Regions from separate parts of the Homo sapiens genome. Here regions 2, 3 and 4 are each reported to be linked to region 1. The links are microRNA targets in miRTarBase. Many come from high-throughput screens and were not tested one by one. Region 1 holds a microRNA gene; each other region holds the end of a gene's coding sequence.

Evidence for each region. Region 1 holds the annotated microRNA hsa-miR-7852-3p (UAUGUAGUAGUCAAAGGCAUUU, at 915-936, opposite strand). A microRNA usually pairs through its seed, bases 2 to 8, with sites in the 3' UTR of a target mRNA and lowers its output. Matches are read on the target gene's strand: a 7mer-m8 pairs with bases 2 to 8, a 7mer-A1 pairs with bases 2 to 7 and ends in A, and an 8mer does both.
Region 2: miRTarBase lists PRR23A as a target of hsa-miR-7852-3p. Seed matches in the 3' UTR shown: 7mer-A1 at 1,287-1,293.
Region 3: miRTarBase lists RTN4RL1 as a target of hsa-miR-7852-3p. Seed matches in the 3' UTR shown: 7mer-A1 at 1,790-1,796.
Region 4: the mRNA of PHAF1 is a reported target of hsa-miR-7852-3p. Seed matches in the 3' UTR shown: 7mer-m8 at 942-948.

Annotation. Positions count from the first base shown.
Region 1 is chr1:107,895,218-107,898,217 of GRCh38, reverse strand. It overlaps MIR7852 (microRNA 7852), which reads right to left and starts at 995; the gene lies at 914-995. The region is part of intron 1 of VAV3 (vav guanine nucleotide exchange factor 3); the gene reads left to right.
Region 2 is chr3:139,002,754-139,005,860 of GRCh38, forward strand. PRR23A (proline rich 23A) reads right to left here. Exons shown (of 1, transcript NM_001134659.1): 1 at 1,209-3,107. The coding sequence ends at 2,715. Among named protein-coding and RNA genes, the nearest start is that of PRR23A, 2.0 kb to the right of the region's middle.
Region 3 is chr17:1,933,963-1,937,069 of GRCh38, forward strand. It overlaps RTN4RL1 (reticulon 4 receptor like 1), which reads right to left. Exons shown (of 2, transcript NM_178568.4): 2 at 715-3,107. The coding sequence ends at 2,534. Among named protein-coding and RNA genes, the nearest start is that of RTN4RL1-AS1, 82 kb to the right of the region's middle.
Region 4 is chr16:67,146,653-67,149,759 of GRCh38, forward strand. It overlaps PHAF1 (phagophore assembly factor 1), which reads left to right. Exons shown (of 16, transcript NM_025187.5): 16 at 393-1,892. The coding sequence ends at 479. It overlaps B3GNT9 (UDP-GlcNAc:betaGal beta-1,3-N-acetylglucosaminyltransferase 9), which reads right to left. Exons shown (of 2, transcript NM_033309.3): 2 at 1,452-3,107. The coding sequence ends at 2,625. Among named protein-coding and RNA genes, the nearest start is that of B3GNT9, 2.8 kb to the right of the region's middle.

The DNA of each region.
Region 1 (3,000 bases):
CATGTATACATGCATTATATATATGTATTCACGTGATGATACTCGTTCCCCCATATTTTCCAAAATGAGGTCATAGAACAGGTGCTGAGTTTTGATCTGCTTCCTTTTTTTTTTAATTTAATAATGACATTCTTTGCCCAAAGGAGTAATAAAACCTATTTTTATCTAAAATCTCTGGAGAACAAAACATTTTACCTAATAGTTTTCAAGTTAGGTAAGGGTTTTCATACTCATATTTTAAACTTTTTAGCTTTTCATAAAAAATCTTTTAAGATGTGGCACACTCTAGTGGTTATGAGACTTTGGGTTTTATTGAACAGTGTAGGGAAAAGAGCAAGAGGGGATTTTAGAAAGTAAGGTACAGCAATAAAATTTCATAAAATATGTCTTAATGTGTACTATCCCTTTCATTTCATAAAGGAGAGGACCGATTCTAGCACCATACATGAAGGAAGAGTATAATCTCAGAATGCCAGGCTGCCATTCAGGAAGTACCAGCATGCTGTCTCAGATAAGCGGTTCTGAGGAACTGCAGTCTATGGTTTATGCACTTACTGAGTTACCGTGGTGTCATGGGCAGGGTGAATGCACCTGAGGTGGTGCAGGACGCCAAATAGTGTAACTAGAAGTCCCAGAGGAGGCTAAAGCCTTCTTGACTAAACTGCGACCCTGGTGCTGTGTGGGTAGCTCCTTTCCTGCCTCACTTCCTCCTTTTCCTTCCCTCGTGGCATTCTCAGCTTTCCATATGCCCTTTCTGGGTCCTGGTTGCTCCTGTTCCCTCCCCTGTTGCTCCTGATACTCACCTCTTCTTGTCTTTTCTCTCTTTCTCCCTCTACTTTTTCAATTCTCATGGTTTTCTCTGTAGAGAAAAGCTGATCTTTTAAGACACAGTGGTCTTTTTGTATGAAGTATGTAAATGCCTTTGACTACTACATACATATGCCTACATATGAAAGTAGTAGTAGGCATATGTATGTAGTAGTCAAAGGCATTTATTAATTTAGTTGTTCAATATATATTTACTGCTGTGTCTCTAGGCAACAGAGATGCAAGGCCAAGCCAAACCTCCTCCCTTGGGAATTCTCAGGACAGTGGCAGTTACTTTGGGTCTTTAGCACTTATGGCAGGTGTCAGTGCTGCTCCGGCTCCTTGTGTTGCCATCTGGGTACTGTTTAAACCTTATTGTGGACTGTGGATTTCTTTGGGTGAAAGTCTGTTTTTCTCACCCTTCTATCTGTTGAGTGCTGTGCAGTGTCTTGTACAGAATAGATTTATTTTCCTGTCTATTTCTGGAGAGGGGCTTTTTTTGAAGATCTGATCAATGATTGGAGTCAAACTCTTTAGTCCCACATGTGATCCATTGTAAACTAACTGGCAAATGTTTCATATTTCCCCTCTAATACATAACAAAAACAGTTTAAGTCTGAAAAGTGGTATAAATGGAACGGAACATGACATTCCTGTAGCCATTTTTTTAATACAGATTATATCCCTGATTAATAACAAAATTGCCAGTCTTTTTAAATATAAAATTACAACAACCATATAGAATCACACACCTCCAACCTCTGCTGATCTTGATCTTAGTACATGAGGCTTGGGTTGCGATTAGATTTATTGTGGCAGGAGGTTTTGTGTTTGAGGAACTAAAGGACTTTCTAGTAAACATAGATGCAGGAGAGCAAATTTGTGAGTAAATACCTTAAAGTCTTTATATAAGTTTTTTGTAGTTAAAGTCACTAACACAGAACAATAATAACAGTACAATAAATACAGAGAATGTACGTGGCATTTTAGATATCAAGTTGGTAATAATGGCTGCTGTGCGATTAATTTGATGAAAGAGGACAGTGATGATCCTGATTGGAAGATTGATAGCTCTTGGGTGGGGTGGGGATGGGGAGAGGCACTCCACTTGCTTTTCTTAAGGACTTGCTCAAAGTAAGTCTGTGTCTCTAAGTGGAGAGCTTTATCAATTGATTTCTTTTTAACATTTGATATATGTCCAGTATGTTCTGCCAAATGCAGGTTGCCAACCAGTAAGTTACAGAAATGGCTCCATGGTTCTGCAGTGCTCTGGCTGCCTAAATTGAACATTATGTATCTGTGTTGTTCTGATGGAATTAGAATCCTGCAGGTGCTTGTGGCCATGGGAGAAAGTGTGTGGCAGCACCTCTGGCACGGAGAGTTACTTCCTGCAAGAAGTCCAAGCTGAAAATGGATCCCCGCTGGGCCACATTTCTGGTGCCACTTCATTGAGCACTTTCTGTGTAGCAGCAGTTTCCTGGTGTTACTGCTGAATTGTTTCAGGGGTAATTTCCTGTGAGTTCAGTATGCATAGTAACAATAAAGAATTTTCATATTGCTATGTGATTAATGTTTATTAAGTATAAAATTTCACAGTTGTGTAAAAATATGCAAAATTTATAACTAATTCATTTTTGAGCAAGGACACATGATTGGGGTGGGATTACTATTTAATAAAAATGCTACTCTATTATTTATTGTAAGTCTTTTACAAGTGTACAGAAATCAGTGACGTGGCCAATAATACCAGTTTTTCTTTCCTGTGTCACTGGGTAGTCTAAAGGCATAGTGAGGTGTTTAGTAACTTCATAGTTTAGTAACTGTGAAGCCAGGCTGCCTCAGTTTGAATCCTACCTCCTCTAACTATTGGCTGTATGACATTGGGCAACTATTTAACATCTCTCTACCTCTGTTTCCTCATCTGTAAAATGGGGGTAGCTGTGAGAACTGGATAAGATTGCTTAGGATAGTGTCTGACAGAGTAAGACCTTTGTAAGTGTTAGTTCTACTAATTATTATTTTTCAGATTCCTGCATTATTTTTATAACAGCAGATGACAAGCAATGTGAAAAAGTACCATTATAAGTACAATGTAAGTGGAATACAAATGTTAGCCATGGTTTTCTACACCTTTGAGGAAATAATATTGATTTTTGTTCCCCACTCACGTCCCATGGGTGAGAGTCCGATTCC
Region 2 (3,107 bases), not on the chromosome of region 1:
AAATGGGATTGAATCAAACTAAAAAGCTTCTGCACAGCAAAGGAAACAAGAGAATGAGGAGACAACCCACAGATTAGGAGAAAAGATGTGCAAACCACACATCTGATAAAGGGCTAATATAAAAAAAATAAAGAACTTTATCAACTATTTTTACTCCTGTTTATGGGTCACATTTTGCTGCACATTCATATATTTAATAATCTTTAATTTGATGCTAGTCATTGTGATGGTTGTATTTTTGAGTGTCTTGATTTTATTGCCTTCTTTTAAAGAGTTTTCTTACTCAATTTTGAAAGTGTTATTCTGGACACACAAGTCCTTTATTAGATATTTGCGTTGTGAATATATGTTTTTTTTCCATCTGTGGCTTATCTTTTCATTTTAACAGTGTCTTTGGAGAACAAAAGTTCTTCATTTGGATGAGGCCCGTCATCACATTATTTCTTTAAGGATTGTGCTTTCGGTGTCATATTTAAGAAATCTGAGGCTAGGTGCTGTGGCTCATGCCTGTAATCCCAGCATTTTGGAAGGCAGGAGGATCACTTGAGCCCAGGAGTTCAAGACAAGCCTGGGCAACCGAGCAAGACTCCTTCTCCACAAAAAATTAAAAAAATTATTTGGGTATCGTGGTTTGTGCCTGTAGTCCCTGCCACTTGGGAGGCTTAGGTGAGAGGACTGCTTAAGCCTAGGAGTTCAAAGCTGTTGTGAGCTATGATTGTGCCATTACACTCCAACCTGGGTGATAGAGAGAGACCTGGTATCTAAAAAAAACCCCCCAAAACAAAAAAGAAATAAAAATAAATCTGAGGCCAGGTGCGGTAGCTCACTCCTGTAATTCCAGCACTTTTGGAGGCTGTGTCAGGAGGACTGCTTGAGGCCAGGAGTTTGAAACCAGCCTGGGCAACATAGTGAGACTCCATCTCTAAAAAAAAAATTTTTTTTAAATTTAGGTGGGTGTGGGAGTGCGCACCTGTAGTCCCAGTTACTTGGGAGGCTGAGGCAAAGGATCTCTTGAGCCCACTCATTGTGCCACTGCACTCCATCCAGGGTGACAGAATGAGACCCTGTCTCCAATAAATAAACAAATAAAGAAATAAATAAAGAACAAATATCACAATCATATGATGGATACTGGAATCTTTAGAAGAAATTTACTACACATATTTATGTCATCTCGAAAATAAAGTTGAGAAAAAAACTGGAGAATATGAGGTAGTTATGTAAATTTAATTGTCCAGAAAACAACATAAACATTGCTTATTTATATCTATACATATATATATGTATATGTAGCTTTCATATATTGACTAGAATGATATCCATCAACTTTGTGTCATGATGTGAATCCCCTGGGAATGGGGGAGAAGAGTGGGGATCAAAGGATATGACAACATTATCTGTAATATTTCCTTTCCTTTATAGTTAAAAAGACATTAAGGAAATAATACTAAGAAATAACGACTGCCAATTCAGGGTGATGGACTCAAGAGCATGAAAAAAACTCTCAAAAATAAATTAGACCAAATGTCCATGCGGTGAAGGTGAGTGAGTACCCCTGAGAGGAAATCAAGATGAAGCCCACACTGCCCTGAAATTCAGGAATACCCATTGGTTAAAGTACATAGAATATGTCATTGTACAAGATGCTGCTGGAATGAAAGTGTCACAACTTCCTACTTTCCCTCATTAAATATTGCTTTCACTAATTTTTAAATTGTTTTTTCGTTTTCTTTTTTTTTTTTTTGAGATGGAGTCTCACTCTGTTGCCCAGGCTGGAGTGCAATGGCACGATCTCGGCTCATTGCAACCTCTGCCTCTCAGGTTCAAGCACTCCTCCTGCCTCATCCCTGCTAGTAGCTGGGATTACAGGCACACGCCACCATGCCCGGCTAATTTTCGTATTTTTAGTAGAGACGGAGTTTCGCCATGTTGGCCAGGCTAGTCTCGAACTCCTGACTGCAGGTGATCCACACGCCTCGGCCTCCCAAAGTGCTGGGATTACAGGCGTGAGCCATCGCGCCCGGCCCTTAAATTCTTATTTGCAGAAACACTTCCAAAAGGTCCAGTGCATTCATTACATTTGAATGTTGTTTGTTTACTATCTAATCTAATATGCATTTATCTTGATTGTCCAGGTCCAGGAAAAGGAGTTAAGGAGAGCAAGTGGAAAATAAAATCAGTGGTCAGAAGCACCTCAGAGGATGTTGGGAGAAATCGTATAGGTAAATTCCTAACTGCAAAAAGAAGGAAAGACAATGATCTGGATTGGAGAGAACGGATAGGTGTATGGAAGTGATAAAAAAAAAGGGGGGAATTTTAAAGAAAACTGAAGGGAGCTTTAAGCAAGAGTAGGGGTGAAACTGAGGATACAGTTGGCTGAAGGTGACAAAGGCAGAAGTAACAGCTCCTGCAGCAAAGGCAAGGGATCTGAAAATCCATGACTGGTTATGTGTGGTCTACTCTTCTTGGTAAAGGTGCTTACCAGAATCTGCTTTTCTTTTTTCATGTCCTTGCCTGCCACTTACCAAGGAATTCTGCCAAAAAACCAACCAGCCAGCCAGCCAACCAACCAACCCACCCAAACAACAGTAATCCAACTGCCCGCTGTCGATGAATGAAGATGCTGCATTTCCGGGCTGTGGCAAGTCCTCACAGTGAGTCTTGGAGGATCCACAAGAACCCGCAGCCGGTGGCAAGGGATTGTGGGAAGCAGTTCATTCCTGGAACAGTCGTCTGCGGGCCTTGCACGGAGGGCGTTTCGGGAGCGGCGGGTGCGCGTGGGGACCTGGACTCCCCACGCGCGGAGAGGGAGGTAGAGGTTGGAGAGGTGAGCTGGGGACAGGCTCCAGAAGGCGGAATTCCGGGTCGAAGAAGGGGCCTGGAGAGTGTCCCTCTGAACTGGGGTTGGGGGCCAGAGCACAGGGTTCTGGGATGGGGCCCTCCCGGTAGGGGCTGAACATACTTCTGGCGGAGGAGTAGAGCCCAGCGGCTGAGCCGGCTGCGGAGTCCATCTGGAGCTCCGGAAACTCGGGGTCCGCGTCCTCCTCGTAGGCCTCTTCCTGGGCGGCGATCTCTGGGACAGATGCGCAGAAGACTTCCTGCTCAAC
Region 3 (3,107 bases), not on the chromosome of region 1:
CAACATCCTTGGGTTCTAAGGGACAGCCAGGCCCTAGCACCTCGGCCTGGGTCAGAGCCTGCAGGCCACAGGGGAGCAGGTGCAGGCTGAGGATTCTTTGGTCTGCAGTCACTGGGCTCCCTTTAGTGAATGCCCCAAGCCTCATACTGAGGAGGATTTGTCCAGCCAGGCCTGAAAACACAGCCTTCCTCCCTCTATCCGGGGAACCCTCTCCTTTCTCTGAAGCCAGAGAGACGTGTGCAGTCTCCAAGCCCACCCACAGCTGTCCGGGTGGGTCCCTAGCCTCCTGGAAAACTCCTTGGGCCCCAGGTACTGACTGTTTCCTTGCAGCCGCCCGTCCCCACCAGCCGCCTGCCGGGCGCCCTGAGGATCAGTCACTTAGCCATTGCTCCGGAGACTCCCGGGAATAGGCCAGGAAGGACCCAGGACCAGCCTCCTCCGGGGAGAGCCACGGAGATGGTGCCGACCCGGGGCAGTCAGAATGTGGAAAGTGAATCATGATCTGTGCGGGCAAGGGAAGTGCCACGAAACGGAGCACCAGGGTGTGCGTGCTCTCATGTGTCCCGTGAATCAGTGCGCCCCTGCCCCCTGCGGCTCCTCCCGCCAACAAATGTGCTGTGTTCCCAGAGCTGTGCCCGGCCAGGCTCGCCCACCCACAGAAGCCCAGGATCTGCCACCTGTCGGGAATGCGGGGTTAGGAAATGAAAAACAGGGTTCTTGTCCAAGATCATTTATTGTTATTATTATTTTTCTCTCTTAATTGGATTCAGCGTTTCTGGCTCCTCACACACATCCTCTCTGGTGGGGGATTCAGGTTTGTGCAAAGCACAAAGGAGCTTGTACCCACCTGGGCCCCCGGCCAGCAGCACGGCCGGCTTTGATCGGAGCCCCTCTTCCCTGTCCGGGCTCGCCTGCCCCAGTCCCTGCTTCTGACCCCTGAGTCCGGCCTCCCGAGCCTCTGCCTGCACCCTGAGCATCCCCAGGACGGCTGGGAGGGCCAGGTCTTCCGTGATGCAGAAGTGCCTGAGATGGTTCATGAAATGCCCTCATTGTTCCCCTTCTGCTAAGGCCCCCGACGCCTCCCTCCTGCTGTCCCACACAGGGCCCTTGCTGGGTCACACACCAAACAGCCTCAAGGAAAAATTCAGCAGCTGAGCCGTGCGGGAGGCCTGGGCTCAAGCCCGGAGTCTCCTTGGCCCGTCCAGGCCGTCACTGACCAAACGCTAGGCTGACGACACGGTCCGACCCTTTGGACTAACACTGTGGATGCTGCCTGGCCTGCTGGTTTCCAGATCCCAAAGCCCCTTCCTTCCCCTTCTCCATCTCGCTCACCCTCGGGGCCTGGCTCCCTCATATACAATAAGCTGCTTCTCACTTCTCACCCTGAAGCCAACAGCTACGACAGCAGGGGTGACAGGGCGCTCCAGGGTGGCAGACAGGCTTGTGTTGCATATAAAAACAAGGTGATGCTCTAAATATCTAAGAATATTGGTCCCCCAAAGTGACTCTTGCTGCCTCCCCCTTCCTCACCGTCCCGCCGACACCTTGCCCCAGGCCCTTGGCAAGGCCAGGTCCCTTGGAGACTATCGTTGCCAGTTTGGGATTCTAGACAAAAATTCTATCACTTTGTTTTTGCTAGAAATCACCAATACAATCCTTAGTTCAGCAAATACAGTTTTCTGTATAGTTTATAAACATGAAAAGACGTACAGTTAGGTAACGGAGTGGGAGGGGGACTGTGCATTTGTGTATATATATATATATATATATATATATATATATATATATATATGTAGAGTGTGAATATATATAAGTGGACGTAGTTAGTTATAAAACTGCACCTTCTGTGAGAACCTCATTGCCCGGGATGAAGTTCTAGATTTCAGCCTCTGATGATCTTTCCTTTGGTAATTGGTTCTTGGACCCCAGCAGTTGGACCTGGGTCTGCCAGGGTTGCCTGAGACATCAGGAATGAGAGGCGCTACCCCCGAGGGAGGGGCTGAAGGTGGAGTAGGATAGAATTCAGGGCAGGGTGACTGGCCTCAGGCAAGAGCCAAGATGCCACCTGCTCGTGTGTGCCCAGACTGCTGGCCACCCAGCCTCGTGGGTGAGCCTCATTTGTTCTTCTCTGCGTCCTGCTTTCTCCAGGAACCACGGGGCCCTCCAGACCTCTCGGAACGATCGGGATTCCACAGAGCCCCGGTGCCGCCGTCGGGGGCAATTGTCCCACTGTTGCCAGTGGAGGATGCACTTGGAGTGCCTTTTCCCACCTTGCCAGAGTGGACACTGTCCGTGGGCGCTCTGCGGGGCTGGCTGGGACAGCCGGCTGAGAAGCGCCACCCCCTCCCGCCTAGGGCTGTACACTTTGGGTTTATAATCCACATGGCAGGGTCCAGACGTCCAGACAGCAGCCGAAGGCTCTACCAGCCTTTTCCTGAAACCCAGCAGATCTTCCACTTGTTAAAAAAAGAAGAAAATAAATTCTGTTCCTTGGTGGACATGTGGCAGTGCTGGGTGCTGACGCCCTGGGTCCTCAGCGGAGAGTGACCGCCAGCCCCAGTGTCCAGGCCAGGAGGGAGGCCCCCAGGGAACTGGCCGAGGAGGCCTGCTGCACCCCGCTGGGGGCACGGATGGGGGTCCTGCGGGCACACTTGCCCTTCCTCTTGGGCCGGGCCGTAGGCATGATGTCAAAACTGAACTTGTGCTGGTAGTCTGGGGCATAGTCTGGCAGCTCGGGGGCCTGTTTCCCGGCGCCCGCCTTAGAGATCTGATTGCGGTTCCTGGGGTTGGTGCAGTTCTTCCCCGGCTTCCTGTGGCCGGGCCGGGGGCCGTGCGGGTGGCCCTTGCTCCTGGTGGGGCCGTGGGGTGAGTGGTGTTCCTTGCGGGCGGCCCTGTCGGTGGTGGTGAGCGTGTGTGACTTGATCTGGTGCGGGGACGCTGGTCCCGTGCAGTTCCGGAAGTCCTCGGCCCTCAGCAGCTTCAGGTCCTGGCCGTGCCGCAGCCCAGGGGACACACAGGGGACAGCGGAGCTGGAGCCCCGGAACCTCTGCAGCCATTCCCACAGGGAGCGCGCGCGACAACCACAGTCCCAGGGGTTGCCGTTGAGG
Region 4 (3,107 bases), not on the chromosome of region 1:
GGGCAAGTGGGGCCCAGCAGAGGGTGTTGGGGGCCCTCCAGTGGCATGTGAACAAATGCATTGTAGGGGAGTGAGTGGCTCTGGAGGCCCTGCTGACTTGGGAGAACAGCAAGCTGCCCTTGTTTTCCCTGTGGATGCAGTATCTCCAGCAGACACTTAACAGTTCCAGAAGGACTGGACACGTGGCCATGGTAAAGGCTGTGTGTAACCATTGAGAAACAGGCAGATCTCAGGCAGAGGGGGGCCTTTAGCATGAACCAGGGGAGGTTGAGGAGTCGGGAAACCCAGCCATTAGGTGCAGGTATGTCACACAACCTCCAGCCCTCATGCACAGGATCTGCCTACATCCCTTTACCTCTCCCCCTTGACCCACTGTCCTCTTCTCACACCAGGTCATGCAGAACAACCACATTGCCTCGGTGACCCTGTATGGCCCCCCCAGGCCTGGTAGCCACCTGAGAACAGCGGAACTCCCCTAGGGACACCACCACCCATGCCCCTCTGTCCCGTGGAACTGTGCATCACATCCTGCTCAGTGGGCCTCTGTACCACCCTGTGGGTTTTCTTGGACACCTGGCCAGTGCTGAAGGGCTGTTGTGATGTTCTGAGGTTGGGCTCAGGCTGGGTGCTCTGCCATGGGCTGAGTGGCCCAGATATTCTTCTGTCCATCTTTGGCCTGCTGGTGCCAGCAGGGGACACAGACTGCAAAGAGAAGCACAAAGTTTGAGCCTTGATTCCTGGACCCAGGAGCTCTCAACTAACAAGGAGGCAGGAGAGGTCAACCCTTGTCCCATGCACATTGGGAAGACTTGGGGCTCTTTCTGTGACTGAGGACACAGGCACCCAGGATAAGGACAAGGTCCTGCCTTTGGCTCCACATTGCCACATGACCCTTAAGGCAAGCAGGTAGCGTGTCCATAGTACTTGGTTGCGACATTTGCACTACATCCACTTTAGTTACTTGATGAGCTGGCTGTGGCCAGGGTGGCCCACCTGCCCTTCCCTGTTCCTTTCTTGCACGCGCTCCCTGCCTGGGCACACCAAACTGGTTGAAACACAGCTTTCTACCATCCAGGTACATGCCCAGGCCTGGTTCTCACCCCTGTTGGAGTCAGCTTTCAAGATTGCCTGTGCCCCTGCTCTGCCCCATCCTGGCTGGCAGGGCTGCATGTTTCCATCCTGTTTGCCTCTTTTATTTAATGCCAAAGTTTTAGCCAAAGACATCTTCCTACTTTTGTTGTGTTTCAGCATTCTGTTCTGCACTGTGGGCTGGCTCTCTGCCCCAACCCTGGGCACTGGCCCCTGGCTGGGCCATTTCATGGCTCAAAGCCTCTGGGGGCTCAAGGAAGGCTGGGCTGCTCAGTCCCTTCATGGGTCTTGCTAATGGAAAGTAGCATATATGTGCTTTAAAAATATTAATCCTTTTGAAAAGAACTGAGAAGAAAAATGTATAATTTTATCCCATTTTTAATATTTTGGTCTAGCAACTTGTGATACATAGATGACAATTTTGTGAGTTTTTCAAATGTGTGTACAGATTTTTGTAAATATGACTCTTTTGTAATTAACTCATGTACAGCCTCATCCTGTATAGTTTAATGATGAATGTGCAGGGGACCTGTCTCAGGCTCCTATATGGTTCCTGGGCCTTATAGCCAGGTTTGTGTGGCGCTCCCGACTTTTGTGACTGACTGGTGTCTTCCCATTTGGACTGTGGCCTGGCCAGAGCCCCTTGCATATCCCCACTGTCAGGGGCAGCCAGGACTGTTCCCATCCTCCTGGAATGGGGGAACCTTCCTTATCCCCTGCCCACATCCCCTCTCCAATAAAGCACCTGTGCCCTCAGCAATGGCCTGCCATGTGCTGTTGCTGGGATGTTTGTATTAAGGTAAGTGTGGGTATTGGTTTTTTGAGCAAGGGGGTGGTTGAAGCATATGGGGAAATTAATAGTGGTGGCATCTCAGGGGAAGACATTCCTTGGCTCCTCTGAGGGGATACAGCCTCCAGTGGGAGACTGGCATTGTTGTGTGAGTTCAGGAGGTGAGGAAAGACTAGGTAGGACCGTGCACTCATTTGTCCCTTATGTGTGGCTCCATCCCTGGTGCTCAGCCACACCTGGGCCCAGGAGAGGTTGTGGGAAGCATAATATCTGTTTTCAGATGAGCTATGGCAAAGTGCCTGCCAGGTTCATGAATTCAGGCTGTGGCGGCCGGAGCCCCTCCACCTCCCTGTGGGGCCTGGCCTTGAGAGCCTCTGCATACGTCCGCGTCAGCCTAGGGGGTTCCAAATCCAGCAGAGTGGTAGGATTCCCTAAGTCCCTGCCACCACACCAGAACACACCTCTGTGCTACTAGGAGGACCAGACATATCCACTGCTCTGGGACCTGTTGGACAAGAGATGGTCATCTACCACCCAGCCTTGGCTCGCTCAAAGGGTCACCATTACACGGGTTTCAACTGGTTCCAGCAGGGTGGACCGCCAGGAGCCAAGCTTAACCCCCATCCCCTGGGATCCTGTGGAGACAGGCACCTGGTGATCAGGGAAGAACCACATACACGGCAATAATCTGGGAAACCGGCTCCATTCTGGGTCTGAGTTAGGAGCTTGGGGCTGTAGTGGGGAGCTAGGAGTCCCATTGGAAGGGGCCTGCAGCGACAGGCTGTGGATGCGCACAGGCTGGCCCATGCGGCCCGTGCAGCAGGCGCCACATAAGCCAGATGTCAGCGGCCGAGAGCCCGTGCACTACAACCAGCTCACGGTAAAAGCAGGGGTCGAAGGTGCTCAAATGCGGCGCGGCTGAAGGCTGGGGGATGCCAAAGGTGCGGAAGGCAGGGTGAGGCTCGGGCGTGAGCCGCAGGCGCTGCAGACACATGCCCAGAAAGACGTCGTCGATGGGGAAGAGCTCGACCTGCGCACAGGCGCCAGCCAGGCGGTGCAGCGTGGCCCCGGAAAGCACAAAGCCACCGCCGCCCGCGTAGGCCGGATAGGCGGGCAGGCCGTACACGGCCTCGGGGATGTAGTACTTGCTAGCCCGCGTGCGGATGGGCCGCGCATGCACAATTACGTCACCAGCAAGCAGGTCTTGCGCCGGGTCCCGCGGCGCCAG